Homo sapiens: one gene and its partners. Each later gene encodes a partner of the first gene's protein in a complex. Each region holds a gene or a part of one and is shown on either strand. Other genes may lie near its edges. The genes, in order: PPP4R3A, PPP4R4, PPP4R2 and PPP4R1.

Evidence for each region.
Region 2: PPP4R3A (region 1) and PPP4R4 share a complex: the UniProt entries of both Homo sapiens proteins name them as parts of the PP4 complex.
Region 3: PPP4R3A (region 1) and PPP4R2 share a complex: the UniProt entries of both Homo sapiens proteins name them as parts of the PP4 complex.
Region 4: PPP4R3A (region 1) and PPP4R1 share a complex: the UniProt entries of both Homo sapiens proteins name them as parts of the PP4 complex.

Annotation. Positions count from the first base shown.
Region 1 is NC_000014.9:91,507,311-91,514,195, forward strand, and holds the start of PPP4R3A (serine/threonine-protein phosphatase 4 regulatory subunit 3A), read right to left. Parts: upstream 3,001-6,885; 5' UTR 2,338-3,000; coding exon 2,196-2,337; intron 1-2,195. UniProt on the Homo sapiens protein: Regulatory subunit of serine/threonine-protein phosphatase 4. May regulate the activity of PPP4C at centrosomal microtubule organizing centers.
Region 2 is NC_000014.9:94,177,322-94,184,321, reverse strand, and holds part of PPP4R4 (serine/threonine-protein phosphatase 4 regulatory subunit 4), read right to left. Parts: intron 1-7,000. UniProt on the Homo sapiens protein: Putative regulatory subunit of serine/threonine-protein phosphatase 4.
Region 3 is NC_000003.12:72,992,630-72,999,841, reverse strand, and holds the start of PPP4R2 (serine/threonine-protein phosphatase 4 regulatory subunit 2), read right to left. Parts: upstream 3,032-7,212; 5' UTR 2,805-3,031; coding exon 2,771-2,804; intron 2,736-2,770; exon of another isoform or gene 2,651-2,735; intron 1,766-2,650; coding exon 1,684-1,765; intron 1-1,683. UniProt on the Homo sapiens protein: Regulatory subunit of serine/threonine-protein phosphatase 4 (PP4). May regulate the activity of PPP4C at centrosomal microtubule organizing centers.
Region 4 is NC_000018.10:9,611,512-9,619,175, forward strand, and holds the start of PPP4R1 (serine/threonine-protein phosphatase 4 regulatory subunit 1), read right to left. Parts: upstream 3,049-7,664; 5' UTR 2,974-3,048; coding exon 2,967-2,973; intron 2,764-2,966; exon of another isoform or gene 2,760-2,763; coding exon 2,715-2,759; exon of another isoform or gene 946-2,714; intron 1-945. UniProt on the Homo sapiens protein: Regulatory subunit of serine/threonine-protein phosphatase 4. May play a role in regulation of cell division in renal glomeruli. The PPP4C-PPP4R1 PP4 complex may play a role in dephosphorylation and regulation of HDAC3.

The DNA of each region.
Region 1 (6,885 bases):
AACCCAATCTCAAAAAAAAAATCTATACATATTATATATACTATATAGTATATATACTATAATTATATATACTATATAGTATATGTACTATAATTATATATACTATATAATATATATACTATAATTATATATACTATATAGTATATATACTATAATTATATATACTATAGTTATATATACTATATAGAATATATGCTATAATTATATATACTATAGTTATATATACTATATATTATATATAGTTATATATACTATATATTATACATACTATAGTTATATATACATGTTATACATACTATAGTTATATATACTATTATATATACTATAATAATATATACACGGAAAAAAATTGCTTATATTAATTATGCAGAAAAGCATACTTCTGATAGTACGACATTAAACTTTTATACTTAAAAATATCTTAAAGGATTTTTTGTATAATGAATCAAATTAAACACATGATGTGAAGGTTATATGTATTATTTTTAATATGGATTTCAATAAATTGATCTCAAATCTACATATGCTTTCAGCTGGGATGGGGGTCATGCCTGTAATCCTAATACTCCGGGAGGCCGAGGCGGGTGGACTGCGTGAGGTCAGGAGTTTGAGACCAGCCTTGGCAACAGGGCAAAATCCTGTTTTTATTTTTTTGAAAGTAAAAAATTAAAAAGAAATCTACGGATACTTTCATCTCATAAGAAGCTGATACAAAAAGTCCATACCTTCCAACATACTATGTAAAGTTTTCCAAATGTGTGAAAGATCTAGAGTAGGTTATTATGTGAGTCACATACAAAATTACACTAACACTTGACATTCAAATTGTATTTTAAGAAGCCAATAACTCAGGCCCAGAAAAATACACCCAACATTCAAAAATTTTTAAATGCCTCCAAAAGAAAATAATTTCTCTCCAGATTTAAGTTACTTTGGGTAACCTTATAACCTGTGGGCAATATACTCCAGATTACCACTTTCAATTTAAATAGAACATCAATATTCCCAGAGTCTTCAATTACAGAAGGGCTAGTCTTGTTGGTTTTTCATGGAATTGGAGTTCTGGGGAGAGTCCAATTGAAGAAAATTCCTTGAAATTAGTTTGCAATAATTCAGATACAGAATCGCTACAATCATAATAAACTGGCATCGTTAGCAACTGCAAAATATAAACTAATGTACAAAAAGAAGTGGAAGATAACTTACTTTCACGTTTGGAAGTAACAATTTGAGAATAGTTTTACCCCACTTGAGTATTTTAAGTGAAATTCACTGTATATCGCCAAAAACAGTGGCAATCCCTACAGAGAATAAGCCTTTTAAAATATGAAACAGCACATGTGGAAAAAAGAAAAAACGTGAAACACTTATTTTCAAACAACTTAGTCTTTGAACCTTGAGGGCTGTTTCAAAATTTGTGAAGCATAAACACTAGGGAAGATCCGAAAGGTTTTAAAAATTATCTGCCAACTTCTCTGCACCTGTTAACCAAATTATGAACACCCATTTAAGCAATCAAAAAAAGCTCATATGATTCCAACTTTGCAAGATGTTTATATAGTAAGCTACACACAAAATTCTGCATTACTATAAAAAAGACAACCAACACTGGTGAACGAAAATCTTCGCAAGGGAAAGCGTTTTCTCTTAGTGTAGAGTTGCCAGATACAGTGTTGCCAAGCTTCAACACGATCAGAAACATGTAGCAAAAAGATGTTTAAAAAGAAAAACAAAAAAAGCACAGCAAAACGTTCTTCAAAGTGTGAAAGGTCCAAGAACTTTCTTAGCTCCAAGCAAAGTTTCATGCCTGCTTTACAGATGGGTGAACTAAGGCAGCAGATCGGATTAATCAGTGTCTTTCTCAAGGTCACTCTAGTGCAAAAGAACAGCACACTCCGGACTCCCTATCTCAGGTCCTCGACCTCTCCACACTCCAGGGCGGCACAGCTCAAACACGCTTGGCTCTCCTCGTACCCAAAATGCCACCAGGCACTCAGAGAAAGGAAACATTTCAAGCGCTCTCCGGGGAGCTCCCGCAAGACTGGGGTACCTGGGGCCCGTCCTCCCCCGAGGTGGCCGCCCTCCCCAGCCGTCCCTCTGTTCTCGTGGAGCGAGCGCCATGCCCCGCAAGAACCAGGGAGGCGGCCCAGGGCCGTGGGGGCTGCGAGGGTCCCGCCGCGCGGGGCTTCACTTACCGTCGCTCTCAGCCCTGACAAGCAGGGACATGCCCTTCAGCCGCTCCACGTAGCCAGACGACACATGCCCGGTGCCCCGGTCGTCCCACTGCCGGTCCTCGTTGAGCGTGTACACCTTCACCCGCCGCCGGGTGTCGGTCATCGTGCCGCCCGGGAACCGGGGCGGGGGCCCCGCCAGTAGACGCCCAGGAAAGGGGCCCTGGAGAGGCGAGGGGCGAGGCGTGAGGGCGCCCGCGAGCGGAGGGCTCCCCGGCCTCACTGCCGCCGCTGGGCGCCGCGGGGCCGCGCCGCCGCCTGCATGGCCCGCTCCAGGGACCGAGCTCTGGGCCGCCGCCTTTCCTCGCCTCCGGCTCCCCGGCGCTATTGTCCAGGCCTGGCGAGCCCGGCGCCCGGCAGCCCCGAGGGGGCCGCGCAGCGCTTCGTAGCCTCCCGCCCCGCAGCGCTAGGAACTCGGGGCTCCCGTCACTGCCCTGCTCCCGCCTCCGCCATGATCTCCGCGAAGCAGCTTCCCGCGCCGCCGCCGCCTCCTCAGGCCGCCGCCGCCGCCGCCATATTTTCCTTCCTTATACCTGGCCCTGCCACCGCGGCCAGTGGCTCCCTTCCGCTCCCCCTGTTTTAAACGTCAGAAGCCGACAGGCGCCTGATCCTGCTGCAACTGCTACCACTGCCCGGGAGACTCTGAGGGCCCCCGGCCGCCCAAGCGACCCGGACTAGTGGAAGTCGGTTTCCCTCCGCCGCCGTCTCTTCCGTCTTCCTCACACAGCCAAAACCGCCGCCATCTTGGTTCGCCCCTCAAAAGCGGCGCGCGGGGCCACCCAGGGAGCAGCTGCAGGGGCGGCTCGTAGCCCCACCATTTAAAGAGACAGCAGCGAGACCGGGAGCCTTACTGCGGCGGAGGCTTCCGACGGAGGCGGGAGGCGGGCGCGGAGTTGCCGAGGTGGCGGGAGCGCAGGGAGCGGAGGAGGCGGGACGCAGATTGCGCCGGTGACAGCCCGAGGCTCCCTCCCGCCTCCTTGCACGCACCGTCGTGCGAGCGCTGGGCGGTGTGTGCGTCCGTCGCGCCCTGTGTTCGTCATCAGCCCCGCTCCAGGATGCACGAGGGGCGTGGATACGTTTGCGGCCTCTGCCCGCGGGCCCCGGCGCTTCGGCCTCGCCTCCGCCCGCCGCCACCTTCCCTTGTTCCTGCCCCGTCCCTGCCTCTGCCCCTGCCCCTGGCCTGCGGACGCCGGGCAGCGTGGGCCTGGGCCCCTACCCGCTTCCGAGAGCGTTTTCCCGGGGCCGCCTTTATGGCTGAGTCGGGCGCTCGGGACCCACCCGGCGCCTTGCGGACTTGAGGGAATGAAATGGAAACGCTTCCGGGGAAGGTCGCGGGTGTGGGCGCCTAGGTCGGCGCAGCCTTGGGAGCCGCCGTGGGTCGCGGACTGGCGTGGCCAGTGTGGAAACTTGGGACTGTTTGCGATTTCTGGGCGTGGGACCGAGTTCCAAGTGACAATTCTAAAACTTCACCTTACAGCCTAGGCAAGCCCCAAGTGCTCCATTCCTTCATCCCTATCAGAACTGTCTGCCAGCCTTTCTTGTCGGAAAAGGAACTTAAGGCGCTCACAAAAACAAATGCGACACTGTGTAATCGGGAGGAGTAATTCTCAGCATTAGGTAGTCCTGTGTTTTGAAGACCTACTTGATGTCAAGTATTGTTGATCTTCACAAAGGAATATCATTCTCGTTCCTATCATGCAGCTCATATGCCACCATTTTGGTGGCTTTTACCATTTGCCAGGCCTTGCCAGGTCGGGCTTGTCCGCTCGGAATATAATGCAGCCACACACATAACTTTAAATTTTGCAGTAGCCACAAAAAGTACGAAGAAACTGGTGAAATTAGTGTTAACGTTTTAGTGCGGTATTTTCAAAAGTTATTTCAATAATCAAATTACTAATGAGATATACGTACAATGTCTTAAAAATGTGATATATTTTGTCCTTCCAGCAAGTCTCTGTTGGGATACTAAATTTTCATCAGAAATATCTACGTTTAGATTTTATTGAAAAAAAATTTTTTTTGAGACAGGGTCTCTCTGTCACCCATCCTGAAGTGCAGTGGCTCAGTCTCAGCTCACTGCAGCTTCAACCTCCTGGGCTGAAGCGATTCTCCCATCTCAGCCTCCCAAGTAGCTGGGACCACAGGTGCGCAGCACCACTGCCAGTTAATTAATTAAATTTGTTATTATTTTTTTTTTTCGGTAGAGACGGGTTTCACTGTTGCCCGGGCTGGTAGAGTTTATTAAATTTACAGTTGAAAATGTAGATTCACATATTCTGTTATTCCAATCATACTTAAAAGTTTTCCAAAAGCTGAATCAAGTATCAGTTTTTAAATTTAGCTGGGCGCGGTGGCTCACGTGGTCAAGGAGTTCAAGACCAGCCTGGCCAACATAGTGAAACCCCGTCTTCACCAAAAATACAAAAAAATTAGCCGGTCATGGTGGTGTGCGCCTGTAGTCCCAGTTACTCGGGAAGCTGAGGCAGGAGAATCCTTGAACCCGGGAGGCGGAGGTTGCAGTAAGCTGAGATTGTGCCACTGCATTCCAGCCTGGGCAACAAAGCGAGACTCTGTCTCAAAAAATAAAATAAAATAACAATTTAAATTTAAAAATTAAGTAAAATGAAAAATTCAGCTTGTGAGTTGCACTAGCCAAAATTTGAAGGCCTGGTAGCCACATGTGGCTAGTGGCTAGTTTTGGAAGGTTCGAGTGCTTGACATTGCCAGGAATCTTTTAAACTTGCAATGTGGCCGGGCGCAGTGGCTCACACCTGTAATCCCAGCACCTTGGGAGGCTGAGGCAGGCGGACTGCTTGAGGCCAGGAGTTCGAGACCAGCCTGGCCAACATGGCAAAACCCTGACTCTACTAAAAATACAGAAATTAGCCAGGTATGGTGGTGTGCGCTTGTAGTCCCAGCTACTTGACTGTCTGAGGCACGAGAATCCGCTTGAACCTGTGGAGGCGGTGAGTGCAGTGAGCCGAGATTGTACCACTGCACTCCAACCTGGGTGTCAGAGCAAGACTCTGTCTTAAAAAAAAAAAAGAAAAGAAAAAGAAGAAACCTGTAAAGTAACTGGTGTTACACCCATCTATTAGGAAGGAAGCTAATAGCATGAACAGGGCTGAGGGGTTTCTGGGATACAGGACTTTCAGTTTTAAAATCCTTTAGAAGTTGGGACCTTCCTCCCCAACAACTTAAAATATAAACAGGGCGCGGTGGCTCACGGCTGTAATCCCAGCACTTTGGGAAGCCGAGGCTGGCGGATCACGAGGTCAGGAATTCGAGACCAGCCTGGCCAACATGGTGAAACCCCCGTCTCTACTAAAAATACAAAAATTAGCAGGGCACGGTGGCGCGTGCCTGTAATGCCAGCTACTCGGGAGGCTGAGGCAGGAGAATTGCTTGAACCCGGGAGGCAGAGGTTGCAGTGAGCCGAAATTGCACCATTGCACTCCAGCCTGGGCAACAAGAGGGAAACTCTGTCTCAAAAAAACAAACCAAAAAAAAAACGATAGAAACGAGTGCTTGCAAAGACCAGTCGGAAACTCATTGTTCACAAACAAAACTGGAAAATTATGAAAACAAAGCAGTCGCTTTTTCTTTAAAAAAAAAAAAGGCAACAATTTATTTACGTATTTTGAGGTGGAGTCTCCTTCTGTCACCCAGGCTGGAGTGCAGTGGCACGATCTCAGCTCACTGCAACCTCTGCCTCCTGGGTTCAAGTGATTCTCCTGCCTCAGCCTCCCAAGTAGCTGGGATTACAGGTGCCTGCCACCACGTCCAGCTAATTTTTGGTATTTTTAGTGGAGACGGGGTTTCACCATGTTGGCCAGGCTGGTCTCGAACTCCTGACCTCAAGTGATCCATCTGCCTCAGCCTCCCAAAGTGCTGGGATTACAGGTGTGAACCACCACGCCTGGCCAACAATTTCAAGTATTAGGGCATGAGAGCAATTTTGTCAATTTTTGATGCAATGAAGACATCAGTAAATTTATTCATATGCTAATACTTATTTGATCCCCAAACCAAACATGAAATACTTTGTAGAAAATAATAAAGTAAATTAAAAAGAAATTATTTAGTATATGGAATAAGGTTAAAAATTATAGTTTATGGAACATACCATAAAATATTAGATTTAAATGAAATTTAATACAATACAATCTTAACAGTTCTATGAGTCTAGATTCTACCAGAGAAACAACCAGTAGAATACATCTACACAAGGATGGAGAGAGTTATCTCAAGAAATTTGTTTGCATGATAGTGCAGTCTGGCTAGGCAAGTCTAAAGTATGTAGGACAGGTTAGCAGCAGAGGGGAAGCTCTGAGGCAGGAGCTGACACTGCAGTCAACAAATTCTTCCTTGGAGAAATATATTTGCTCCTTTTTTTTTTTCTTTTGAGACAGAGTCTCACTCTGTCGCCCAGGCTGGAGTGCAGTAGCACAATCGCAGCTCACTGCAACCTCTGTCTCCCCAGGTTCAAGGAATTCTCATGCCTCAGCCTCCCAAGCAGCTGGAACTATAGGTCTGTGCCACCATGCCTCGCTAATTTTTGTATTTTTAGTAGAGATGGGGTTTCACCAAGTTGGCCAGGCTGGTCTCGAACTCCTGACCTCAAGTGATCTGCCTGCCTCAGATTCCCGAA
Region 2 (7,000 bases), 2.7 Mb from region 1:
GCACCACTGCACTCCAGCCTGGGAACAGAGCAAGACCGTGTCTCAAAAAAAAAAGAAAGCTATGAATTTTACCACTTGGTATGGTGAGCCCTCTAATTCTTAATGTCAATACTAAGAAACTACTGCACAATTCAACATTACAAGACTGGGAACCAAGCAGTACAACTCCCACTTTTTACTGGGAACTAATTAGTTATAATTTATGATAGAACTCAATCTTCCTATGTCCCTGTGTCTCACTTAGCTACTTCTCAAGAGGGAGCGTTGGGATGAATTAATTGCTCATGAAAATAAACATATACACACACATGCATATACATTTATGATATACATATGTTATAATATGATTACATTGATAGTTACATAACTTGACACATTATTCAAATATGTATACTCATTTATTTTATATTGCTTTATATATTATCTTATTTTATAGATTAATTTTAATGTATTTTATTATTCTATATTATGAAATTATTTTGTACTACAGAATTGTATAGGCTTTTTTAAAGTAATAAAACACTATGCTTACAAGATGAAAACTTTGCTCAATTCTCTCACATCACATTATGTTATTACGCTTTCAGAGGTCTTTTCAATGACATTATATGGGTCACTTTTACATTGATGAAAATATTTCACTTTTTATTTTCAAGCTTTTCCTATAGATCCCATGAGAGCATTCTGCTTTCTACAGATGTCACAAAGAAACCTTTCTGAGTGTTTGGTAAGTAGGAAAAAAGACACAGATGCCTCCCATGGTTGTTCTCATAACAAAAGACAAGGAAACAGAGATGGGAAACAATCTCCAAACCCTTTATATTCACAGACCTCGTACTTTTCCAAAACAGGGAATTCAAGGTTTGCCAAAGACTTCAGTAATTTGGCCTTAGCAATAATGGAAGGTATACAGCTGGAATCCATTATATACTGCTCTTAATATATTAAACAGTGATCCCTCTGTCCTAAAAAATACAAATGAAGATGCCTGCAATTTCCATGTAGAAAGGCAAGTCATTTGTACATCATCTTCACAGAGGATGACAACGTGGGCAATTTTTTTAATGAGGACCTCTTAGAATCATTAAAAGCACAGGGACTGAGAATAGCACTCCCATAAGCAGGTAGACTCCAATATCCACTTTGTTTCTCTTTTTCTAAGAAAAACTAATCACACAACATGCCTCATCTCCTAAGAGACAATCTAATAACTGAGAGTCTTCTAACCAACAGTGTAGCCAAGTAAAACCTTATAGAACTCCCCTTCTTGTAGGGAAAGAAAAAAAGTTAGATGGTGTAAGTCATGCACAGAGAAACGAAACATCTAAAGGCTATTAACTAGGAAGTTCATTATTGATATGCTAGAAATTATGTACTAGAAGTTTGTCACTTTTGTTTCCTAAAAATATATAGGCTGGGACCACTCAGACACTGCTGGCAGAAGTACAAACTGGTCAAAGCACACTGGAAAACTGTTTAGCAATATCTTTTAAGCTGGACATAGGCATATGCTATGACCAACAATTCGGCTTCTATAATGATACCTAAAAGAAATGCACACATGTATTCACCAAGAGACTTGTACATGAATGATTATAACAGCATTATTCATAAAAGCCCCAAACTGAAAACTAAGCCAAATGTCCATCAGCAGTGGAATGAATAAATTGTGGTATATTCACATAATGGAATAGTATACAGCAATGAGAATGAACAATCTGTTGCTCCATGCAACAATATGGATAAATCTCTTTTTTAAAATATTGAGCAAAAGCAGCTATACACAAAAGGTACACAGAGTGCTTCCTACTATATAAAGTGCAAAATCAGGTAAATCAATGTATAGTGTTAGAAGTCAGTAGAGTAGCTACCCTTTGCAGGAAGTACAGGGCACTGGGACAGGAATACAAAGGAAGCTACTAAGCTAACATGATAATGTTCTATGCTTTAATCTGGATACTGGGTACATGGGTGTGTTCACTTGTGAAAATTCAACAAGCTGTATTATGATTTGTGCACATTTCTGCATACATTCAAAGTTCGCGTTAAAAAATAAAATATAAGCTTATGAAAGTACTTCTTTAACTGATATTCCAAATTCATTACTTTTTTAAATCTATAAAGGCAAACAAAGAACAAACCAGACCATGGGAACAAATACAACAGAGAGACAGGAGAGGAATATCAAGAATGAAGCAAGATCATCACAGAGCACACTTGGAAAGGAGATGGTATGTATCTCTCTCAAACAAAGGTGTTTGAGATGTGACAAGATGTTAAAAGACCTGATTAAGCAATACTCTCTACTCCCTTGCAACTGCAAGCTGAAAGCTCGTCGCTAATAGGCTACTCTCTGGAAAGCCCACAGAATTCCACTCTCACTAATTGAGTTGTAATTAAGAGTCAGCTAAGTATGTTCTCAAACTAGTTTATTTCAAATTTCACTTGCTGTTGCAATTACATAATTTAATTAAATATTACCTAAATATATGAACACATATATTTGTTTCTATCAAATTAAGTTAAAAGTTTTAGAAAAACTAAATTCAATAAACATAAGTTGTCAAAGAAAATTGCTACTAAAGTATGGAAGAACAAAACTTTTAAAACACAAGTAGAAAATCATAAAAACCTAGAACCATGCTTTCAGACTGCTTCATAAGCAAATTTAAATTCTTGTTCAACTTTAAAGAAAACTGAACTTGATATTGTAAATGCATTATGGGGTGATTTATGAAAGAAGGAGAATTTCAAACTTTAATCAGCAGACCCATACTCAAAGAAAAGATCATGACTTCACATCAAAAGATTGGCAAATGAAAATATATTTATAGTTTACATTAAAATTTGATGTTGAAAATATGTAACATTTGTGATTTTATGATTCTAGCCAATTGTTTGTATTAACTAACCAACTATCTATCTTAATTGTGAAGAATGCAAAAGTCCTCTCCTGTGTATCACTAAAGAAAACTGAGCAAGCAATACTGGTCACTCAAGACCACCTATATACACATATACACATGCATGCACAACACAAATGTGATCTCTCTCTCTTCCTCTCTCTTTCTCTCTCTCACACACACACATACACACACACACAAACCATGCCTCACTAAAACAATACTGAAAGGAAGCAAGCATCAAAAACAGAAATCAAGACAATAATGAAAGTAAATGTGGGGACACACGTCATAAAAAGGAGGGCATTCAAAGGAGTTTTTCACACAACTTTCCACTTTGGGATAGCAAATAAGATAGGTATTTTAAAAGAAAAACAACCAAAAGCTAGGTGAGTAGCAAAGCTTTAATCACTGGAGTTCTTCCTTACTGTCTCATTGCTACCCTATCCTAGTCTTGAACCCAAGAAGAAGTACGCCAGAGTTCTCACATGGTACAACACTTGTTTATTTCCACTGATTTGACTGCAGAAATCTCACTCTTTCATATCACTAGGGGGAGCACTTACTCTTTAAAAAATAGGAAGAGAAAGTTAAAAAAAAAAGTTCCAAATAAAGATGCACTTTATGATCGGGGGCAGTGGCTGTGGAGGTGGTGTGTGCCTTCTGTAGTCCCAGCTATTCAGAAAGCTGAGGTGGGAGGATCATTTTAGCCCAGGAGTTAGAGCACTGTGACCGTGCCTGTGAATAGCCACTGCACTCCAGCCTGGGAAACACAGTGAGACCCTGTCTTTAAAAAAGAAAAAAGAAAAAAAAAAAAAAAAAAGCAAAGCTCTTTATCTGACTGCCCTGGGAAAGCAAAGTTCAAAATGCTTTAAAAGTCACAGCACAAAGTGAAAAATATTTTTAAAGTCACAAGTGACTTTAAAAGTAAGCAACATAAAAGCTAGTCTCAGTACATTAACCAATCAATACATTTAATGCATAATAGCAAATATTACTTAGGGTCATTTGGTAAGAAAATATAAATCAACAGGCTGACCTTACTATTACTCAGTTAAAAATGCTTAATTATGATTTGTGAAGATTCTAATTTCTGATAAATACTATTAGCAAACGAAGTTAATGGATATCTATCACAAACTTCAGTTGGTATACTTTGTCCGTTTATTAAATTATTGGAAGGCAAAATTAATACCATTATCCTCTTTTAAAGTTTTAAATGTAACTTGAGCACCTAAGTAGCAAGGAAGTAGGGAAAGGGAAAAGGAGACAGAAGGGAATTAACAGTAACGGGATGCCTATTATGTGCCAGGTGCTTCAACCACACTGGGAAAAGGGAATGATTATTTCCACTTTACAAATGAAAAGCAGGGCTCGAAAACCATAACTAACTTCACCACTGTCACATAGATAATAAATTGTGGAACAAGATATGACTCATAATACCTAAAATCAAAAATATCAGAAGTTCCTTAATTCATCTGGCAGTATGGTCATCTTAAATACTCTTTATTCCATTAAGAGGCATATATTTATATCACAGCGAAGAACAAGAAAGAACAACAACAAGAAAGCTTGCCCTTGTCCTCTAAAAGCTTGTCCTCCAGGACCTTACAATCTACTGAAGAAAACATGCACACACAGTTAAGGAATGTAAATCAGTGATTAATGGCCAATTGAAGAAAGCGCCACTAAGTGATAACGGAGCTCAAAGAAGCCTGGGATCCATGTGGTTTAAGCAGTTAGAGAAGACTTTATGAAAGATGTAAGATTACAGCTGGATCCTAGAGATGGTGTATGTTGGATAAGGATATATTGAAAGAGTACTCCAGGATGAGGAAAAGCAAAAATTAAGGATAAACACAATGAAACTGAGTAACAGTGAAAAGGCCAGCATGACTGAATCAAAAAGTGAAGAATTAAGTGGAAACAACCCAATATCCATCAACTGATGAATGGCTAAACAAAAGCGCTATATCCATACAGTAGAATACTACACTGCAATAAAAAGGAATAAACTACTGATAGCTGCTACAACATGGGTGAACCTTGAACACCTTATGCTAAGTGAAAGAAGTCAGTCACAAAAGGCCATATACTGTATGATTCCGTGTTTAGGAATCTCCAGAATAGGCAAATCCATAGATACAGAAAGCAGAATAGTGGTTCCCAAAGGCTGAGAGGGTTGGTACTGAGGAGCAACTGCTAATAGTACAAGGTTTCTTTTGGGGGTGATGGAAATGTTCTAAAATTGATTGCAGTGATGGTTGCACAATTCTGTGAATATACTAAAACTCACTTAACTGTACAGTTTAAATGGGTGAACTACAAGGACTATGAATTATATCTCAGTAAAGCCATTTTTAAAAGTGAGGGACTGGTGGGACATCACATTGCACAGCTAAGATAGAGTCACCTATGGAGTATTCTGAATGCCAGCCTTCAGGGTCTACACTTTATCTGGTAGACAATCAGAAATATACAAGTAAAGATTTACCTAATGAAAGCACAGTATACATACTTAGGATTCTTCTATAATAAAATCACTCACATGTTTTAAGTACATTCCAAAAATATACGCAAAATCACAAAGAAGAGAAAAAACAGGAAAAAGATAAGATATGATTTTGACTAAGACACAAGCTGTGACTATTAGGAAAGTTGTTTTGCTTCAGTGCTAAATGCCACAGATGGGTATATCAGTATCGCACGTATGCAAAACCACAAATTCATCTGTGTCAAATCTTTGAAGACTGTAATATTCTAAACTTAATTGTGAAAATGTCATTAATAACTGACATGTCATATTTCAGGGTAAGACAATGAACAGTATAATTTGTTTTTTATCGATGACAGTACTCTATATATAAAATGCTTTTTTCAGATACTGGATTCAATCTAAATGCTATCAGAACCCCACTAATATAAAGCATTGCTTACTGATGCTTACACATCTGACTTTGAATTCTAATTTAACATAATACTCCAAAATAGTTTCAATACACAAAATAAAAGAACTAAAGAAACAAACCTGACACATAAAAGCAGAGAGAAAATATATATATAACATGTTATATATTATACATTTATATAATATTCAATGCAGAGGAAAAGGTAAAGTGCTCAAAAATAAACCTGAAAATCAATGACAGACGGAAAAAAGGACTCAGCAAAGTACAAACTAGAAAAAAAGGAATAAATTACATCTACAATAGCAGGCTCAATACATGAGAGAAGATGAGAAGGCCTAAACAGAGGCAAAGTTCAGAACATCTCTATGAAACAATCCTGTCCCCTCCCCTGAATCCCAGGGAAGAAAGACCCTTTCAGGCATTCTTGGCATCATCCCTCCCAAAGCTGGACTAAGGTGAAATCCCACATTCCCCCAGGAGGTGGTAAGATGGTAGGGATACAAAAGAAGAACTCAGTTGGAGAATCCATACATAACCAAACCAGTGTTCCCCTTGTGAGTCACCTTGCAAACCTCCTTCAAGGTAGGTGAGCCACAAGAAACTAAAGGAGATATTGAATCTCTTTTAAAATTCTCTTGTCCAAGAATGAGAGGGCCCATCTGTCTCTTTAAGGGCTTTGTAAATTCCAGAACTGAGCGAAACTGATGTTGAGTCTGAGAAATAAAGACAACTCAGACAACCTAGTTTGCTAACAAACAATAAAAGCAAAATAGAAAACAAATAAGCTTTCCTTAAAAAGAAGCCTTATCACTGATATTTAGAATACGGTGTCTTCTATCACAAGTAAATAGAGCAAGACTCTCCATTTCCTAATTCTAAGCCAGTGTTTATACTAAAGAAAAGAATTCAGTAGGAATAAACAGGAGTTTATTTCAAATCATTAACTGTTGTAGATTAAAACACATTTGTCCACACTTTCATCAATTTTCTACCTACTTTGAGTAAAAGAACTGTGGGAAAAGGCAAATGTTGACATCTATTGTTCATCATAATAAACATGTTAATTGTTAAGGAATAAAGTATTCCAAATATAACACAATATGAAAATGGGTTAAAAGTTGGATTATTCTCTAAGTAAACACCCAAAACACATACCGTTGAATTCACACATAAATAGAAGTTTTC
Region 3 (7,212 bases), on another chromosome or scaffold:
CCATTGAATATAAGAATCTAACTACACCAATCATTTCAGTACAAAACATGCTTAGTGAATACATAAACACCGAATATGGGGTGGAGGATTGGGAATTTTAAGTCCTCTTCTACCAGGATAAAATAACTGTCCAAAAAAAATCAGATAACTTCCCCAGCCACTTGGTGTTCCAGTAAGACAGGATATTAAAAAGCTATCTTTTAGAAACTTTCAATTATTTATACATTTATAGGCAATGTACTTTATCAAAAAGGGAAAGCAGTGTGTACAAACCTGATAAACTGAGTAAGACGTTTTAAGTACTCATCTCCAAATAGTTTGATATCATCTTGTATATCAAAAAACAGCCAAAAGTAAAATGCTATTTGGCTTGACATTGTTGACAGGGCTAAGTCTGTGCCGACTAGCAATTCAAGAGGAATAGTGGCAGTCTAAGCATTTATGTTTTAGGGATTAATTTATTTTTGAAAGATGGCATGTGGTCATTTTTAGGCTTATCTATATAAGCACAAATTAACAGTTTTACATTGTTCTAAATCAAGATGTTCTATATGAAACCCTAATGCGAAGGTAAAAATGACTTCCCCCGCCCAGAGGGTCCCATTTTTTAATGTAATAAATAGAAATACAACATTGAACACATCACACTGACGTTCTCAAAATGACTGGTGTATTTTAATAGAATACTAAGGAGACTCAGCTTGCAGGCATGACCATTAAATCAAGCACTGAGGCAGCAAAGGTTTTTTTCTTTCTAAAATTAGGCTAGTTGTTAAAAGGCTAGACTACAAATAAGCAAATCTTGTGAGAAATGAACACTTGCTAATAATAAAGCCAGAGAAATTATACAATTCTTGCTGAAAGCTACACTCATACTGGGCAGATAACCCACTTATTAACATTGAAACCATAGAAACCTACCCCTTTCCTGCTGCCCCAGCCCCCACCCAAAGACTACAAAAAGAAGTCATCAAAGATGCACTGTTGTCTACAAATAAACTTAGCCAGATTGTGTCTACCACACAAACTGCAAAACAATGACCTGGAATGTTCCTTCTGAACACAGCCCTAACTTTATAGCGTAAGTTTCAGATTCAGAACATTTGGAAACGAGCTGAATAAAATGCTGAGCATATGTAACAAGTCAGCTATCTTAGAAAGTCTACAAGTCAAAACTGTAGCATCTGGAATTTGTCAGATAATAACAGAGTCCTCCAGACGATAAATAGAAGTGACACTTTAAACACCTACATATGCAAATATGACCAAAAAAAGGCTGGACACACGACAATATGAGAAAATACCACCAAGACTCTGAAACAGAATCAAAGCCACAAAATTCTAGGAATAAGCCTATTTGTTATGGCCAAAAAGGGTCATAATGGAATAGGCATTCTTCCTTTCTCTGGCTCGTTAAGACTAATACATTCTCTAAGCGTGCCAAAGCCTAGCTATAAAGAAAATTTTAACATACACAGGTTTTTAAAATCCGTTACAGACCATGTATAAAGTAAGTAAGCGTATACGTTCTTTAAATGTAAATATATAAATTATTTAAATGACCAGGACTTCTACAATTTAGAATGAATTATTTAATTATCCCAAAATATACTTTTTTCCCTTTCCTGAGCAATTCTTAATAATGCACTGGTCTATAACGACAAATGCATGTTTTCAACTCACATTGTTTCTCCAGTCTTGGCTACATGACAAAGAAACTGATCCAGGACAGGACAAACTTCCTTTTTCCCCCTCTTCTCAAAATCTAGATGAAGGAAGAAAAAAAAACGTTATCAGTTTTCTCAAAAGCGCTCTAAAAACAAACTTTCCTCCTAGTCCTTTACCTTATTAAAAATCAATTAAATACAAAATTAAAAAAATAAGGCCTCTCAACCAAATTACCACCTCAATCCTCCAAGTTCTACTTCCAACATGTCACCCTCTTTACAGATAACAAGAATCCTCCTAAAGGGGGCACTCAACTTCACAAACCATTTTTAACGCAGTGCTTCTCGAAGTGTGGTCCGGGGGAACACCAGCATTATATTAAGCTGGGAATCCAGTGAAAATAAAAATCCCCAGGCCCCGACTCCCACCAATTGTTCATCTAAGTCCATAAATCTGCCTTTCTAAGAAGCACCAACTACCCCAAGTTGCCGTCCCCAAATGATTCTGAATGTCAAAGAATAATTCTCAAAACGCTGAAATCTCTCTACTCGAAGTTTGTAAGCCACTGTTCTCAAGCCTGTTGCGTGGAAGGCGTGCAATCAAGAACAGTGAAGGCAACCACCTCGAAATTAGGGCGCGGAAAGATGACTTCAAAAGCCCTGAAAAAGGCATACTGAGACAACTTAAAAGTTGCGATGCTACCCCCTACCCCCGCCCCCACCAACCGTTTACTTTTTCTCCCACCCCAACGCCTAGCGTACGGGTAGCCTGGTGGAGAAAAGAGGATATCTGGGAGGGAGGGGTCTGCGGGTCCGCCACTCGTCCCCTGAACGGGTGGGAGAAAGACTGGGGCCCCCGCAAGAGTTTCCCCGGCTCCCCTCCCCCAGCCCAGACGCCGGCGGCCGACACAAAGCCAGAGCGGGGCGGGAGAGAGCTGCCCACAGGGCTCCCCGCCCCTGGGGAGGTGGAGGGGGATGGGAGCCCGGGAAGCACTCTCCCCACGCCGCGCCCGGCCCCGGTCCTCGGAACCATCCGCCCTGAAAGGAGAGAAGAGCGAGCCGGAGAAGGTGAGGGGGAATGGAGAGGGGGCAGCTACCCCCACCTTTCAGCGCCTCCTGGAGCCTCTCGACGTCCATGGCTTCCCGGAGTCCCTCACAGCCTCCGCCTCCCTCCGCGGGTCTCTTGGGGACCGGAACGCCTCCCCCCACCCCCCCGACGCCCTCCCCCTCCCTCGCACACACTCCGGCACGCAGGCGACCGGGGGGGGGAAACGAAGGGAGCCGGGGGAAGCGTGCGAGAGAGCAAGACCGACAGAGCGAGCACCTCCCCAAGCCGCTACCACCAACCCTCCAACATGGCGCCCGGTACGTCACCGCGCGCACGCTCCCTGCCGCCGTCCTCGCTCCCGCCGCGCGCTCCGGCCCGGAACCCGAGAGCGCGTGCGCGGCCGAGGTGTGACGCTGGGGCCCAGTGGCGTCTGCGTCCCGGCGGCTTCCAGAGCCTCAGCCCCAGCCCCAGCCCCAGGCCCAGGCTCCGCGGAGCTGAAGACTGGACGGTCAGGCGAGAGGGTTGCAGGCGGACTCCTAGGCTTTGAATCCCTGCCATTTCCTCTCTGTGTGAACTTAAGCTACTTACTTCGCCTGTCTGAGCCTCATTTTCCCCATCTGTACAGTAAGGGCACTGGTACTGATGCCCTATGCAGTTGCTGTGAGAATTCAGTGTATACACTTCACGTTCAGAATGCGCCTAAAAAACGTAGAGCGAGGCCGGGCAGGGGGCTCAGGCCGGTGATCCCAACACTTTGGGAGGGAGGCCGAGGCGAGAGGATCGCTTGAGCCCAGGAGTTCGAGACCAGTCTGGGTAACAAAATGACCCCGCTCCCTCGCCCTTCTCTATATAAAAATAAATACAGGCCGGGCGCGGTGACTCAAGCCTGTAATCCCAGCACTTTGGGAGGCTGGGGCGGGCGGAGCACCTGAAGTCAGGAGTTGAAGACCAACCTGGCCAACATGGCGAAACCCCGTCTCTACTAAAAATACAAAATGTAGTCGGGCGTGGTCGCTCGTGCCTGTAATCCCAGTTACTCGGGAGGCTGAGGCACGAGAATCGCTTGAATCCAGGAGGCGGAGGTTGCAGTGAGCCGATATCGCGCCACTGCCTCCAGCCTAGGCGACAAAGCGAGACTGTTTCAAAAAAATAATAATAAAATTAACAATACATACATACACTAAGCATTGCTAATAATCCTAACAAGAATACCTCCCTGCTTAACCCAACGTTCGTTCGTCACTGGCCCACCTGTGGCAAGAAGTAATGTATACAGCAAAGTCATTAAGAGCTCAAGGTTTGGAATCAATATTCAAATCCCAACTCAACTACTTACTCCTTGTGTGGCCCTGAAGTAGTTACCTAAACTCAGGCAGCTTCAGGGTTCTTATTTATAAAATGAGGGTTGTAAAACGGCCACGAGGATTGAGTGAAATGGCAAATGTGAAACATTTGGCACAGTGCGTGAAACCTGGAACACTCAACGTGGCTGGGTTTTTATTACCACTGTTAGCATTATTACATGACATAATCTCCCAGGAGGTAGGAGAGGGCGGAAACCTCAGAAGTCCTCTGCAGCCCTGACATTTTACAAATGGGAAAGCTGTGTCACAGACAGCAAGTCTGGGGAGACAGAACTAGAACCCAGAACCCAAATCATCTGGCTCCCAGCCAGTGCGTGGACATTTTTATACTCATCTGTGAGCTTTTAAAAGAAAAGGTACTGCCCGGGCACGGTGGCTCACACCTGTATTCCCAACACTTCGGGAGTCTGAGGCAGGCGGATCACCTGAGGTCAGGAGTTTGATACCAGCCAGGCCAACATGGCAAAACCCTGTCTCTGCTAAAAATACAAAAAAAAAAAAATTAGCTGGGCTTGGTGGCGGGCACCTGTAATCGCAGCTACTCGGGAGGCTGAGGCAGGAGAATCCCTTGAACCCTGGAGGCTGAGGTTGCAGTGAGCCGAGATACTCCAGCCACTGTACTCCAGCCTGGGCACGACAGAATGGGACTCCGTCTCAAAAAAAAAAAAAAAAAAAAAAAAAAGAGAGAGAGAGAAAGAAAAGAAAAGGTACTGCGTTGTTCCACCTCCTCTTCCCAAAACCCAGCATAGCACAAAGTCATGGAAGGAAGGAGGGGAGAGAAGGACCAAGGGAGGGAAGGAAGGTTATTGTTTGGTCTAAGAAGATGCAAGTTTGGACACAGCCTTTACACTGTTGACCCTCTTAAAAGACAGTGGGTCTGACCCTGATCCTAGGTGGTAGATGTAGGCAAAAGACATTCACACCCAAAATAGCTCTCTCAAATTGTGCCATCAGAGAACCAGTCCCCTGTGTCTTTAGACCTTCGTTGTTCAGAGCATCTAGCTCAATTACAAATATCCTTGCAGAGAGAGGGAATAGGGTAGCACATCAAGCACTTGGCCAGCACTTGCCAGGCACCAGGTTTAGTTTATCCAGGTCCCTTCCAGTCTGAAAGGGCCTACTGCCTACATGGCAAAGCTTAGCCTCTCCTTCTATCTGCCACTCTACTATTCAGAAGGGTCTCTTACTGTAAGAGCTCTGCTGTACAGTAGATATTAGCCATGTGTGAATATTGAAATTTAAATTAATTAAAATTAAATAAAATTTAAAATTCAGTTCCTGAGTTCTTCAATAAAAATCCAATTCTTTTTTTTTTCTTTTTTCTTTTCCTTTTTTTTTTTTTGAGACGGAGTCTTGCTCTGTCGTCCAGGCTGGAGTGCAGTGGCGTGATCTCAGCTCACTGCAACCTGTGCCTCCCGGGTTCAAGCAGTTCTCTGCCTCAGCCTCTCGAGTAGCTGGGATTACAGGCTCCCACCACCACGCCCAGCTAATTTTTGTATTTTTAGTAGAGACGGGGTTTCACCATATTGTCCAGGCTGGTCTTGAACTCTGGACCTTGTGATCCACCCGCCGCAGCCTCCCAAAGTGCTGGGATTACAGGTGTGAGCCACCGCCCCTGGCCTAAAAATCCAATTCTTTGGTCACACCAGCCACATTTTAAGTGCTCAGTAGCTACATGTGGCTAGTGGCTCCTGTATTGGATAGTTCAGATAAAGAAAATTTCATTATTGCAAAAAGTTCTATTGGAACTTTCTGTTGGAGAACACATTATGCTAATTTCTAACACTGTTTTGTCCCTTTCATTGCTGTCAGCTTAACTGAATTTCTTATGGTTTTTCAGATCCCACCTGGTCTTCAGATAATCAAGGCTTGTGCCCCTCTGGTTAGCTCCTCCTCTCCAATGCACTTTGCTACATTCCTCTGCAAATTCAGATCTCTACTTAAACACCACTTCCTCTGGTACACTTTCCACGATTCCCTTAGGCTGTCATTGCTGTGTGCACTTTGTCGCCCGTCATAGACCTTATCCAGTGTCTGGAAGTCAAGATTACAAGGGGAGAAGAGGCAAAAGATGAGGCTGAAAAAATAACTTCGTTTGGTTCATTCCTTCCTTCTTCCTTGAATTCTTCTCCAGCCGGCCTGTATCACAATGTCTGCAATTACTAGAGCCTCCTACTGGCTGGGCATGGTGGCTCACACCTGTAATCTCGGTACTCTGGGAAGCCAAGGCTGGAGGATCACTTGAGACCAGCCCAGCAACATGTCTCTACAAAAAATAAAAAATTACCAGGGGTAGTGGCGCACACCTGTAGTACTAGCTACTTGGGAGGCTAGGAGGATTACTTGAGCCCAGGAATTTAAGTCTGCAGTGAGCCGGGATCATGCCACTGTAATCCATCCTGGGCCACAAACATAGTGAGACCCTGACTCAAAAATAAAAAATAGAATAATAAGCCTCCTACTGATGCCGATTTCCTGGGAAGAAAACAGAATACAAATGTGGCAACCAGCCCCCACAATTACCCCTCATGATCCTCACTTGCTGAGATTCATGCCCTAGTATAATCAGGCACACCAAATCACAGCTGTCTGTGTGAAGGCACTAGGGCTTCTGCCTTGGCCTCTTGAATTGGTAAATGGGGCCTCAATGGGGGAAGCCAGCTGCCATGTCATGAGAACATTAGACAGTCTTGTGGAAAGGCCCCACAGAGAGAAGAACTGTCCTTGAAGGTGGATCCTCCAGCCTCAGGAATTCCTTCAGGTAACTGCAGCCCCAGCTGACATCTGGATCACAACCTTAGCAGACATCCCACACTAGAGCAGCCCATCTAAGTCACTTCCCAATACCTGATCCACAGAAACTGTAAAAGGTGACAATGTCTATAACTGTTCTAAGCCTCTAAATTTTAGAAACTAATGCAACAAATAAGAAATTTAATAGTAACAGCTAATATTTATTAAATACTTTCATGTGTCTGGCATTCTCCTAAGCAGTTTACAAAACTATCAAAAAGTGTCTCCTAAGCAGTTTACAAAAGTATTTAATTGAATCCTCACAAAATCCTATGAGGATCCTCCTCACTTAACAGAAAAGAAAACTGAAATATAGAGGCCCAGCACAGTGGCTCACGCC
Region 4 (7,664 bases), on another chromosome or scaffold:
GGTCCTTCAACTGGCCATATGTCCAAAAGTCCTTTGTTCCTGAATATTCTGGGTAAAGGTATCACCTGTAAAAACTTTAGTAACTGAGAAAAATAAGCAATTACTCTAACAAAGCCTTCAACCAAATTATGAATATGCAAATAACTATTGTGCCTTCAATGTCTGTTTTATCCTAAATTAAAATGCACAGGAAACAGAATCTTTAAAAAGTTAGTTGCAGCCGGGCGCAGTGGCTCACGCCTGTAATCCCAGCACTTTGGGAGGCCAAGGCAGGTGGATCACCTGAGGTCGGGAGTTCGAGACCAGCCTGATCAACATGGAGAAACCCCGTCTCTACTAAAAGTACAAAATTAGCCAGGCGTGGTGGCACACGCCTGTAATCCCAGTTACTTGGGAGGCTGAGGCAGGAGAATCACTTGAACCCGGGAGGCAGAGGTTGCGGTGAGCCGAGATCGCGCCATTTTGCACTCCAGCCTGGGCAACAAGAGTGAAACTCCATCTCAAAAAAAAAAAAAATTTAGTTGCGAGCATTGGCAGCATCTTTAAGTACCTTCATTCTGTAAGGTTCAACATCAGTGTTTCCTTCTCTGCTCTTCTTTTAAGCTTCCCTTGCTCTTTTCTCATAACAGCAAACATAATCATAATCATCGCTGTTTACCAGGAATTGTTCCAAGTGCTTCAGAGGCACTAACTCATGTACAGCCTTGAACAACTCTATGAAGTAGGTAATATTTCTTATGCCTACTTACAAATGACAAAACTGAGGCATAGGGAGGTTAAGTGAGTTGCCCAAGTCTGCCCAAAAAGACACTGCTAAGACAAACAGAGCAGCCTGGCTCCAGTGGTAACTGTAATACTGTACTGTACACCTAGATTCAAAACTGCTTGTAAACCACTAGAGGGCATGGGTTGTGCCCATCTTTCTCAAAGCTCCATCCCCAGTACCTGGCAGAGTGTTGAAACTCATGGTTGAATTTTTCACAGGTATGCCTTCCCCTCTACACTGTGCTTCTTGGGGGCTAAGGAAGAAACTGAGACTGCATTTCATCCTTCAGGAGTGAGAAGTTTTTGCTCCAGTCATAAATACTTGCTGAATAAATGAATCTTCTATTTACGAAGTCGAACATAAATATAAAAAGCCCTCCTCGAGGTAACATAATCAGGGCCATTTCTCCAATCCTAACCTGGCAAGAGATCTGAAATCAACAGATGCCTTAAATAATATCTCAAACTTACTATTAGGCAGATAAGTGGCTTAAGGTAAACATTAAATAAAATGTTAAAGCTGCCCTTCACTACATGAGTACTGCTCCCTTTAAGAGAGCTGTTTTGAGCCACCTCACTAAAAACACAGACTTAGCAAAAGTTTGGATGTGGTTCATTTACTTTAAAGATAAATTACTCGTTTCAGATAATCCATCTAAATAGTAAATCCCCCTTACTTTACTCAAAACAACCAGGAATCTAAAAATTAAGTTTACTCTGAGTAAGGGAACCACATTAGACAATGCTAAGGATTAACTACAGAGTATTTAAAAGAGTAATTTCAAACTGCAGCCATCTCTGAAATTACTTATACAGGTACTAGACAGTCAATCTCAGCATCCGGTAGGCTTTCCACTAAACAGACCACAATCCTACTATGGTTATCATCTCAACTCAGAACAATTTCTTGGTCCCTTATGTATCCCATGATCTTCGCTTATATATTTTGCACACTCTGCATTTTTAAAATGCATCTCAAAACCTATTGATTTTTTGATGGGTCGCTATTTTGGAAGATTAGCAAGAATAGAAACTATTTTAAGTTAACTGCAATTTGTCACTTCTTTCAATACAAACCTGCTTAACTCTTTTGTCTTTTCTATCGTGACCCAAATTATTTTCTGAGGCTTAGAAAAGTACATATAAGACGAAAAATTCCTTTCTAAATATCAATTCCGTCGCCATCAGGAAATGTCAGAAACTTTGTCTTTTTAAAAATAAAAGCGTCAACTCTTTAAAAACTTCAGTACCTCAAAGGAAAGCTGCACTGTTAACACTGAAGGAGGGCTGGGTGATTTCTGAACATCCGCATTAAAGAAATATGCTCTCCAAACCTAGTAATTCCTGCGGAGGCCACACCTTCTAACCTTCTCGTAATCCACTAATCAAATCGGGAGCATCTGAAAACTGCTACCAGCCAAAGTAAAATGACAGGTATGTCATCCTCAAACAATCCAAAACCGGGTCGGGGAGCCCAGACGGCTAGCCGGGGCCCAGGCTGACCCCCGGGCGCTCCTGGAAGAGCGACTCTAAGGAAACACACCTCCCGCGCGAGCCTCTTCCTTCCTAGAGTGACGGGGGAAGGGGACACCAGGGGCAGAAACACACCCAAACCCCACTTCAAATCCTGCCCCACCGCTTCTCCTTCCAAAACAGCCGCGCCACTGCTGAGCCCGCAGGCGATTCGGGGGCGCCGGGAGAAGAGAGCGAAGGGCGGAAAGCGAACTTGGGCGTTACTCCGGGCGTCTCCCTCCCCCAGCGGAACCTGGGCGCGCCGTTTCCTCACGGACGCGAGATTTTCCCCCCCGATCGCCACCCCAGCCCGCCTGGGGCCGCCCTCGCCCACCGTCCCCTCAGCCAGCCAGGGCCCGGCCCAGGCCTCGCCGCCGCCCGCCCTCCCCGGCCGCTCCCCGCGGACTGCCAGGCCACCGCGAGGCCGGGCCACTCACATCCGTCTGCGTCCTCCTGCAGGTCCTCCTGAAGCAGCGAGAGGTCTGCGCCGAGGGGAGAGAAGAAAGGCCCGGTCAGCGCCCCGGGGCCCGGCGCGACGCCCCCCCCCCGCCCGCCTCCCCCCCGCCCCGGGGGCGCCTTCCCGCGCCGGGACCCCACGCCGGCCCCGGCCCGGCAGCCACTCAGGGCTGCGGCGGAGGGCGGGTGGGCTCGAGGAGCCGCCGCCGCCCGGAGAACAGGGGGCCACGTACCCGCCATCTTGTGGTCGCCCCCTCCTCCGCGGCCGCCCGGGGAGCCGGGGCTACATGGAGCGGCGCGAGCCGGGGAGCCGGTGGACGCGCGCGGGAGGGGCGGCGGGGAGGAGGAGGGCCGGGCTGGCGGGGGCGCGCGCGCGGGGCGGGCCGAGGGCCCGGGCCTGCCGCGGGCGGCGCGGCTCCCGGCCGCCCGGGCCCCCGGCCGCGCCCCGCCCCGCCCCGCCTGCCCCTCCGCGCGGCTCCCGGGCGACCGGCGCTCCCGCCTCCCGCCTTTCCCGCTGCTTGCCGGGTCCCGGCCCGGCGACGCGCGCTCACACCCTCCTCCCGAGCCGCCCTCACGCCGAGCGCTGCGGACGGGGGCGCGCAACCTGCCGCCGGCCGGGACCCTGCGGCGAGTGCCGGAACCCGGCCGGGCGGGGCCTCCCGCGGCCCGGCCGCTTTATTGGGTCACCGGCCTCGCCCACCGCCCTGCCAGCCGCAGCCATCTCGGCGGGCGCGCCGCTCGCAGCCAGCGCCCCATCCCCAGGCCTGCACGTACGTCGTCGGCGATCCGGGGCCGGGGGCGGCTCCGAGGTCGTCGGGGCCGGGGTCCCACCTCCTCTTGGAGGAAGCGCCGCCTCCCCACCCGCCCGGGGCCCTCGCCAAGTGGCTGCTAACAAAGCCCAGGGCCCGGCTGCGGGATGGTTGACTGACAAAGTCATGCCTGCCTAGCCAGCTTCCTCGTGCAGCACGGTGAAGGCTGGGGCGCCGGGTTTTTACTCCCACGTCCTGCCAACTCGAGCTGACAAGGCGGGCAATCCACCAGCGGGAGCGTTGGCAGGCCCGGGGTCAGATCCTGATTCAGCCAGTTAATTGGTAGGAGTGGGGCCCATTTGTAGAATGAAGGTGATAACTGCCTCGTGGGGTTATTGGCATTAAATGAAGAATGTAGGGAACCTAGCATGGTTCTTGATGTCTAGGAGGTGCTCGGTGAAGGGTGCCTATGATTCGCTTTGTCTTCTAAATACTTTTGGCAGCACTTGAGGTGTTAAAGTCTGTATCCCAGACTTTATTAGTCTTGTTGTTTTACGTGACTTAAGCGATTAGCTCAAACGCCCAAGTACAAAATGGGGCTAAACCCAGGTTTTCCGACACGATTCTACCTCCATGGCTCTATCTCCAGCTCCACCCAAGGCCTCCAAAATGGTGTTCTCCTAAAGTGACCAACAAAACACCAAGCTGTGTCATGGTGCCACTTTGGCGATGTGGTCTCTTAGGAGAGGGAATTCTAAGTAGTTAATTAGCTTGTTCCTTTCTACGTTGTAGTCTTGACCAAGGACAATGTGTTGGCATTTAATGCCACTGAAGATTTAAGAGACTAAGGAATCAGATCCTCTGAGATTCCTAAATCTGTGTAATAAAATGGGTTCTACACATAGCTATTCCAAAAAATTCAGTCAGATATTACTAACAAGATAGACAGATTATAATCTGTATGAAATTTCTAGGAGTAATAAAAATCAGAATAGACCCCGTAACCCCGAGTATGTGTCTAATTTTCTCAACTATAAAATAATTAAAACTAAAGGCCTTTCTCTTCCTCCCTTGGTGAATGCCCTTATGTGAATTCAGCTGACACACTCAGAATGACAAAGGAGTTAGAAATTCACATCAACAGCAATTGGTCCCAACTGACTCAAACCATGAGACTTCTGCCCTGCTAAGATACCTTGTCAGTATCTACCACTTTAGCAATTCTGGGTAAATGGGGGAAGAAAGAGCCAAATCAGCTCTTTTTTTTTTTTTCATTAAAAAGCAAATTTTTTTTAGAGCCAGTCTTGCCTTACGTAGCCCAGGCTGGAGTGCAGTGGCACAATCATGACTCACTGTAACCTCGAACTCCTGGCCTCAAGAGATCCTCCCATCTCAGCCTCCCAAGTAACTGGAACTAAAGGCACAGGCCACTCCACCTGGCCAATTTATTTTTAAAATTTTTTAGGGACGTGGTTCTACTGTGTTGCCCAGGTGGGTCTTGAACTCCTGGCCTCAAGCAATCCTCTGGCCTTGGTCTCCCAAAGCACCAGGATTACAGGTGTGAGCCACCAAACCCGGCCCAAATCAGCTCTTTATTCTAACTGGTGGTCTCACCGCAACAACACAAAATCTACAGCGTGCCAACTGTGCTTCAGCCGCTGGATGCACTAAGACAAAACTGTCTTGATCTACACAGTTGAGTTAGACTTAACAGTTCTCAGTAATCATGATAAAATAGGGACTATGTACCAAATGCTAGCCTAGGATATGGAACAACTAATTCTGCCTTTGGTAGCTAGGCCTCAGTAAGTTTTATCTCAGTATTCTGTGGGAAGGGCAGCAAAGGAGGAGGATCTGTATCATTTTTCTGTATTCAAGAGCTATGCATTTGATTATCATCTTAGCTGAATTACACATTGCAAGAAGTGCCTTTAAGCAATATGGTTTTTAGATATTTCAGTGACGGTATCATTCATGGTTCAGCACAAATATGTGTTTTTTACATTTCACTTTCTCTCCTTTCTAAAAGAAAGGAGTTTTTAAACCAGTGTTTACAAACTGCACTCTGTCCCCTTCTTCTAAGAAATAATATTTAAACAAATAATAGCAATCATTATTCTACATACCTTTAACCCAGCTTCACTTACAATGCAGCTCGTGGATGGCAGAGCTGTGTGTTGTCCGTGGTCAGACACACAGGAAGTCTGAATTGTTATCCTGTTCTGCCACTGAAATGTGTAAAATATAGGGGGAGTGTCCCAAGTCATTTTCCTAAAAGCATCATCCAACTATGTAAGTACTAAGGCCTGCATTTTTAAGAATAAGTCCTCTTCCAAATGATAAGGAAAGGGTTTTTGTTTGTTTGTTTTTGAGACAGGCTCTTGCTGTGTCACCCAGGCTGGAGTGCAGTGGTGCAGTCTCAGCTCACTGCAACCTCCACCTCCTAGGCTCTGGCAGTCCTCCCACCTTAGCCCCCTGAGTAGTTGGGACTACAGGTGGGCGCCACCACACCCAGCTAATTTTGGTATTTTTTCGTAGAGACGGGGTTTTGCCATGTTGCCCAGGCTGATCTCAAACTCCTGGGCTCAGGTGATCTGCCCGCCTTGGCCTCCCAAAGTGCTGGGGTTATAGGCATGAGCCACTGTGCCTGGCCACAGTGACAATTTTTCTTAGCAGCCAATGAGCCTTGGAAATTAATGTGTCTGGCTTTTCAACCACAAACAAACATAAAAAAAAAATGGCGAAAACATCGCTAATAAACAAAACCCACCTGATGTTGCTTGCCACTATCATGTTTGTTAATTTTTGTATCGGTGATTGAACCATTCACTTTTTTCTTCAGAATTATCATTCCTGAAACTGAAAGTATATAAGGACAGCCCTATTATTTATTGTTTTAAATGATGAAAAGAGAAACAGTCTGAAAAATGGAGAAATACTTACATGATTAAAAATGATTTTTAAACAAATATTTATTTGCTTTTTTAAAATGAAATTTGCGTGTCATCTTTGCACAGGGGCCATGCTAATCTTCTCTGTATCAGTCTAATTTTAGTGCATGTGCTGCTGAAACGAGCACGTTAAACAAATTTTTACCATTCATTTCATTCATCTTTTTTGAAGCCAGATTGACAAAATGTCCCTCATAAACTCATTTTCAAATAAGAAGAACAATTTTTAGGCCATGTGTGGTGGCTCACGCCTGTAATCCCAGCACTTTGGGTGGCTGAGGTGGGCAGATCACCTGGCGTTGGGAGTTCGAGACCAGCCTGGCTAACATGACGAAACCCTGTCTCTACTAAAAATACAAAAAATTAGCTGGGCATGGTGGCACATGCCTGTAATCCCAGCTACTAGGGAGGCTGAGGCAGGAGAATCACTTGAACCGGGGAGGCAGAGGTTGCAGTGAGCCAAGATCATGCCACTGCACTCCAGTCCGGGACACAGAGTGAGAGTCTGTCTCAAAAAAAAAAAGGAACAATTTAAAAAAACTAATTGCCAGTCTCTTACCTAAAGCCTCCTATACATTTCTATACATTGTATAAAGGTAAGGACAGACGCAGTGGCTCACGCCTGTAATCCCACCACTTTGGGAGGCTGAGGCAGGCAGATCACAAGGTCAGGGGATCGAGACTATCCTGGCTAACAGTGAAACCCAGTCTCTACTAAAAATACAAAAAAATTAGCCAGGCATGGTGGCGGGCACCTGTAGTCCCAGCTACTCGGGAGGCTGAGCCAGGAGAATGGCGTGAACCCAGGAGGCAGAGCTTGCAGTGAGCCAAGATCGCGCCACTGCACTCCAGCCTGGGTGACAGAGCGAGACTGTCTCAAAAAAAAAAAAAAATTGTATATTTGTGAAATTTTACTTGTCCTCCTCTCTATGCTTCTTCTATCTCCCTTTAAAGCTCCCTGTCAAGGTGACATTCTGAATGTGAAGCCTTAGCCTTTCCTAGAGCTTTCATAGTTTTTCAAAGATACTTGATCTCTTTACTCACATCAGCTAAAGAGACATTTTCTCACACTGTGCTTAAGAAAGAAGAGAGAAAGAAAGAAGGGGAGGGAGGGAGGGAAGGAGGGAGGGAAAGAAAGGAAAAGAAAAGAAAAGAGAAGAAAAGAAAAGAAAAAAGAGAAGAAAAATACCTACAGAACTGAGCTCTATACAGAGTTACCCTGATTCAGGCT